2 linked regions of the Homo sapiens genome follow. The protein of the gene in region 2 interacts with the protein of the main gene of each other region in a pairwise test. Each region holds a gene or a part of one and is shown on either strand. Other genes may lie near its edges.

Region 1 (3,500 bases), on a different chromosome or scaffold from region 2:
TGGCAGAAGGAGAGCTAGAGAGCTCTATGGGGTTCCTTTTATAAGGGCACTAATCCCATTCATGAAGTCTCCACCTCCATGACCTAATGACCTTTCAAAGCCCCGACCTCTTAATACCATCATAAGGGGGTTAGGATTTCAACACAGAAATTGGGAGGGAGGGATAAAAACATTCAGTCCAAAATTCCTATGTTTAATATATATTGTTATATACATTGTTTAAAACTGTATACTGACTTATGTGACTATACTTAACACTATTCAACTAACACTTAAACATAGTAAAGATGGTAAATTTTATTTTAAAAATCAAAATTAAAAATAAGACAATAAAAATAAATAAAATCACTACTAACTAAAGCAAAACTAATAACAATATATGTATTATAGTGTTATACATAGAAATAAAATACATGACAAGAACATAAGGGCCAGGAAAGTCGGTTAAGGAAATTACACTTTTGGAATATCTTACATCCTTCATGAGACAATAGATATGTCAAGGATGCATATTGCAATTCCTAGAAAAACCACACAAACTCACACAAGACACAGAAGAGGTTAACAGGGGAGATAAAAAATAAATACTAAAAATATGTACACTTATACTAAATGGAATACTAAAAATTACTGCATTCACCAAGGGAAAACAGGAAGAAAGACACAGGTGAACAACAATCAGATGGGACAGATAGAAATCATATACCAAGATGGTAGATTTAAATTCAACCCTGTAATATTAGTAATTACATTAAATGTAAATGGACTAAACAATCCAGTTAGAGGCAGAAATTGTCAGTCTGGATTAAAAAGAGAAAACATAATCTGAAAACAGAAGGGTAGAAAAAGATATGTAGATATATCATGTATATTAGTTATATGTAACTGCAGGATAAATTATCCCCAAAATTTAGCAGCTAAAAATGACAAACACTTATTTCTCTGTTTTTTCTGGTTCAACTGGGGGAAATTTGGTTCCAAGCTCACTCCCCAGGACAAGAGAGTGAGATAGAGACAGAATACCCAATAAAAAGCTGTCATTTTTTAAAAATTGATTTTGTTTTTTACAGCAATATTAGGTTCACCGCAAAATCAAGCAGAAGGCCTACATTGGCATACCATTATCACCCAAAGTCTGTAATCTACGTTAAGATTCACTCTTGGTATTGTACATTCCATGGATTTGGACAAATATATAATGACATGTGTCCACCATTATAGTACTGTACAGAGTAGTCTCACTGCTCTAAAAAATCCTCTATACTCCACCTATTTATCTCTCCCTCCCCGACCCCTAGCAACCACTTATCTTCTTTACTTCTTCCCTAGTTTTGCATTTTCCAGAATGTCATATAGTTGGAATCATACATGTAGCCTTTTAAGATTGGCTTCTTTCAATTAGTAATTGTATTTACATTTCCTCCATGTCTTTTCGTGGCTTGATAGCTCATTTCTTTTTAGCACTGGATATTATTCCATTGTCTAAATGTACCACAGTTTATTTATTCATTCGCTTACTGAAAGACATCTTGGTTGCTTCCAATTTTTGGCAATTATGAATATAGCTACTATAAACATCTGTGTGCAGCTTTTTGTGTAGACATACCACAGCTTTTTGGGTTACATACTGAGGAGTGTAATACATGCAGCTTTCTGGGTTACATACCAAGGAGTGCAACTGCTAGATTGAATAGTTTTGCAAGGAATAGTCGAATTGTCTTCCAAAATGGCTACACCATTTTTAATTCCCACGAACAATAAATAAGAGTTCCTCTTTCCCCACAGCCTCATCAGCATTTGGTGTTGTCAGTCTTCCAGATTCTGGCCTAGATCTAATAGGTGTGTAGTGGTGCTGTAGTCCTTTTAATTTAATATCACAATTGATATCCCATCACTATGCTGCATTCTACCAAACTTGTCAGTACTGAATCACTAAATCCAGTGGATATTCTAGGGAAGGGGATTACACAAAGGTGAAAATACTGACACAAGGATTATTGGGGGCCATCTTAGAGGCTGCCCACCACACCATGCAAAACAGCAAGCATAGGAAGGGTGATGTAGCTATATTAACATCAGAAAAAGTAGACTTCAAGACAAATACATTGCTGGAAATAAAGGGAGATATTTCACAATGGTAAAGTGGTCAGTTCATCAAGAAGACATAACAATCCTAAAAATGTATATAACAGAGCTAAAAACAAGTGTCAAAATGCATATAGCAAATGTTGACAGAACTATAGGGAGCAAAGGATAAATCAACAATCATAGTTTGAGACATTAACACTCTCAGTAATTGACAGAGAAAGTAAACAAAACGTCAGTAAGGATGTAGAAAATTTGAATGATACTATCAACCTGCCTGACTTAATTGATATTTATAGAAACTATATCTACAACTGAACAATATACACTCTTTTCAATGTAGAAAGCACATAGAACGTTTACTGAGATAGACCATATGCAGAGCCACAAAATAAATCTCTGACTACAACAAAATTTAATTTGAAAGCAATAACAATAAGATAGCTAGAAAAATCCCAATACTTTGGAAATTAAGCAACATAATTCTAAATAATTCATGGTCAAAAAAGAAATTACAAAGGAAATGAGACAATATGCTGAATTTGAAAATAATAAAAATACCACATACAAGAATCATGGGATGCAGTTAAAACAGTGCTAAAGGAAATTTGCAGCATTAAATGCCTACATTAGAAAAAGAGATATGTGAAATAAATGATATAAGTTTCCAACTTAAGAAGCTAAAAGAAGAATTAAAAACAAGACATTTTAGAAAGCTAGAAAAAAATAAAGTAAACTAGAAAAGAATTAAAATTAAAATAACTAGAAGAAAGAAAGTGATCAAAAATAAGAGCAGAAAGCAATGAAATAGAAAATGGACAGACAATAGAGAAAAATCAACATAGCCAAAAGTTGGTTTTTGGAAAAGATTAATAAAATGATCAATCTGTAGCAAGGTTGATCAAGACAACAGAAAGAAAACAAGACAAATTACCAATATCAAGAATGAAAGAGGAGAGATCACTACAGATCCTACAGACATAATAAGGTATTAAAAGGATATTGTAAAAAAAAAAAAATGCCAATAAAGTTGACAACCAAGATAAAAAGGACAAACTTCTTGAAAAGTACCACTTACCAAAACAGACAAAAGAACAAACGGAAAATCCAAGTAACCATTAAAGAAATACTGTTTTTAATAAAGTCTTCTCTCGCACAAAAATTTCAGATTCACCTGGCTTCGCTGGTAAATGCTATCAATCATTTAAGAAGGAAATTATACTAATAATACTCAAACTCTTTCAGAAAATAGAAGAGGGGATATCACTCCCAACTCATTTTATGACTCCAGCCAGCATCATGCTGATATCAAAATTTGTGAAGCACACTAGAAGAAAATTATAGCTCAATTATACTTCATGACCAAGTAGTTTATGCCACTTTGGTGTAACATTCAAAATTTTCCAATGTAATTC
Region 2 (3,500 bases):
GGTGAAGTAACATCTGAAGAGAGTTTTGAGTTTGTTGGTTTTGTTTTTTTTTTTTTTAACTCTAGCTAGAGTACTATCTAGATATAGAAACAGTACTTCTAGGAGAAACAACAACATGTTCATTTACTGACAGAGATGATCTAGTAGAGAGGGGAAATGCTGATGCAGGAAACAGGAGGAAGAATAGCTTGAGCAATATTCTTGAACAAAACAGGAAGAATCTAAAGCACATATGGAAGGACTGGCTCTAGCTAGGAGCAAGAAGCCACTCATTCTCACCAACAAAAGAGAAAGCAAACATGTTGATAGGTGGGTAAATGAGGTAGTGGGAGACTGTAGAAGTTCTCTTCTGATTCAAAGGATGGGAGAGATGTTGGAGGTTTGAAGATAGAAGAAACTTTATAAAGCAATCATCAGAATGGGACAGTGAGAGGACCAGGGAAATATGATTGGTCTGGCAACACTTAAATTGAGACCAGTCAGGACAGTTGAAGTGTTTTCTTCAGCTGATTCAGCTATACTAGGACAGGCATGAAGTGGGCAAAACTGAATTTAACTAATAGGTTTATCCAAGAGAAACCTACCAGAAAAGAGACAGACATGAATATGAAAGGTGAAAGGAAGGAAATAGTGACAATGACTGTCCATGGTATTTAAACTGGGTAAGAGGGACGTGATGAACTGAAGAGAATGAGAGACACTGGAAACATGGCAAAATCTCAGAAGGACTGAACAACTATTGAAACTGGAATACTAAAGGAAGTAAGCTGGTAAAACAGGCGAAGGCAGTCAGAGCAGGATGTTTGAAAGTGAGATGTTATTGGTAGTGACAAGACTTAGGCTTATGATCAGGAAAGCAAATGGCTGAGACTGGGTAAAAGGTAAGATCAGTGATAAAGAGGAGGTCCAGAAAATGACAGGTCAGTGTATCTGAAGGATCTTCTCTAAGGATACTGAAATCATCCAAGAATCATGATGGAAGTAATGGTGAAGAAAGTAACAGTAAGCTAGTGGCAAAATGTTTTCAAAAAGCCAAAAAGAAGCCAGGCATGGTGGCATGTGTCTGTAGTCCCAGCTACTCGGGAGGCTGAGGCAGGAGGATCCTTTGACCCCAGGGGTCTGAAGATGCAGTGAGCTGTGATTGCTCCACCGCATACTCCAGCTCCAACCTGGGCAAGAGAACAAGACCCCATCTCTAAAAGAAAAAAAGAAAAGTGAAAGAGAGTGATCCAGGAATCAGGAGAGGTAGAGGATGGGATATTGTGACAAAATGAGATTTCAACTTAGATATTTTTAGGGAGGAGGAAAGGAGAATAGCAGTGAAGGACAATGGAGACACCTATCCCACCAACAGAGGCCCTATGGTGAAAAGGTTTTGAGAATAAAATTAGCAACCGTTCACCGGGGCATTACGGGAAGTTGTGTCATCCAGGAGCACCAGATTTTGATTTAGTGCTAGAAAGCCAAGAGAACCTTCACAGAAGAGACTGAAGACATAAACGAAACCACAGTGGCAGACGAAAGCTTCTGATCTTGATACACATATCTTAAGTACAGCTGACAGAAGAATAAAGAGAAGGAAAAAGGAGAAAGGAGAAAGGAGGAGGAGGAGGGAAGAAAGAAGAAAGCAGAATAAAGCAGCTTTTGCACAAATTCAAGCAAGAGTAAAAGAGAAGAGAGAAGGAGAGAGGAGGGTAAAACATACAGACGGCAAATAAGCATATGAAAAGATGCTCAACATCATATGTCATCAGGAAACTGCAAATTAAAACATACCACTACACACCTATTAGAATGACTAAAATCCAAAGTACTGGCAACACCAAATGTTAGCAAGGATGTGGAGCATCAAAAATGCTCATTCATTGCTAGCGGGAATGCAAAATGGTATAGCCACTTTGGAAGACAGTTTGGCAATTTCTTACAAAACAAACAAAAAACATGTTCTTACCACACAATCCAGCAATTGTGCTCCTTGATATTTACCCAAACAATTGGAAAATGCATGTCCACACAAAAACCTGCACACAAATGTTTTCAGCAGTTTTATATATAATTGCCAAAAGTTGGAAGCAACCAAGATGTGCTTCAATAGGTAAGTGGATAAGCAAACTGTGAATTTATGGCCTAAACTGTGTCCTCCAAAATTCGTATGTTGAAGCCCTAACCCCAAATATTACTATATCGAGAGATACAGTCTTTAGGAGGTAATTAAAGTTAAATGAGGTCATTAAAGTGGGGCACTAATCTGATAGGACTGTGGCCTTATAAGAAGAAGAAGATTCTCTCTCTCAGTGCCATGTGAGGACACAAGAAGAAGGCAGCCATGTGCATGCAAGCCAGGAAGAGAGCCCTAACCAGAACCTGAAGGTGCGGCCATCTTGATCTTGAACTCTAACCTCCAGAACTGGGAGAAAATAAATTTCCATTGTTTAAACCACGCAGTCTGTGGTGTTGTCTTATGGCAGCCTAGGCAGACTAATAGGCTATAGAACATACATACTATTTTTTGTAACACTGTAAATAGTATTTTTGTAATACTATTTAGTGCTAAGAAGAAATGAGCTATCAAGCCATGAAAAGACATGGAGGGACCTTAAGTGCATATTGCTAAGTGAAAGAAGCCAATTCAAAAATGCTACATACTGTATGATTCCAACTATATGACATTCTGCAAAAGGCAAAACCATGGAGACAGTGAAAAGATCAGTGGTTACCTGACCAGAGGTAGGGAAGAGGAAGGAGGAAAAAATAGGTAGAGCATAGGGCTTTTTTAGGGCAGTGAAACTATTCTATATAATACTGTAATTATGGATACATGTCATTATACCTTTGTCAAAACCCATAGAACAGTGGTTCCCAACCCTGTTGGGAACCAGGCCACACAGCAGGAGGTGAGCAGCAGGTGGGTGAGTGAGCGAAGCTTCATCTGTATTTACAGCCACTCCCCATCACTTGCATTACCGCCTGAGCTCCACGACCTGTCAGATCAGCAGCAGCATTAGATTCTCATAGGAGTGTGAACCCTACTGTGAACTGCACATGTGAGGGATCTAGAGTGCACGCTCCTTATGAGAATCTAACGCCTGATGATCTAATCACTGTCTCCCATCACCCCCAGATGAGACCATCTAGTTGCAGGAAAACAAGCTCAGGGCTCCCACTAATTCTGTATTATGTTGAGTTATATAATTATTTCATTATATATTACAGTGTAATAACAATACAAATAAAGTGCACAATAAATGTAATGCACTTGAATCATCCTGAAAACATTTCCTGTGCCTCCCTGTCCCCACCTCCTGTGGAAAAATTGTCTTTCATGAAACCAGTCCCTGGTGCCAAAAGGCTGGGGATCCCTGCCATAGAATGTACAACAGAGTGAACTTTAAATGATGGGCTTAGTTAATAATAATGTATCAATACTGGCTCATCAATTGTAACCAATGTACCACACTAATGCAAGATGTTACCAATAGGAGAAGCTGGGGATGAAGGGG

Evidence for each region. Proteins that work in one complex are often made in the same cells at the same time.
Region 1: the proteins of ATF6 (region 2) and NNMT interact in a two-hybrid assay, tested with the Homo sapiens proteins (one large-scale study listed by BioGRID and IntAct).

What each region holds. Positions count from the first base shown.
Region 1 is NC_000011.10:114,299,399-114,302,898, reverse strand, and holds part of NNMT (nicotinamide N-methyltransferase), read right to left. Parts: intron 1-3,500. UniProt on the Homo sapiens protein: Catalyzes the N-methylation of nicotinamide using the universal methyl donor S-adenosyl-L-methionine to form N1-methylnicotinamide and S-adenosyl-L-homocysteine, a predominant nicotinamide/vitamin B3 clearance pathway.
Region 2 is NC_000001.11:161,769,320-161,772,819, reverse strand, and holds part of ATF6 (cyclic AMP-dependent transcription factor ATF-6 alpha), read right to left. Parts: exon of another isoform or gene 205-3,500; intron 1-204.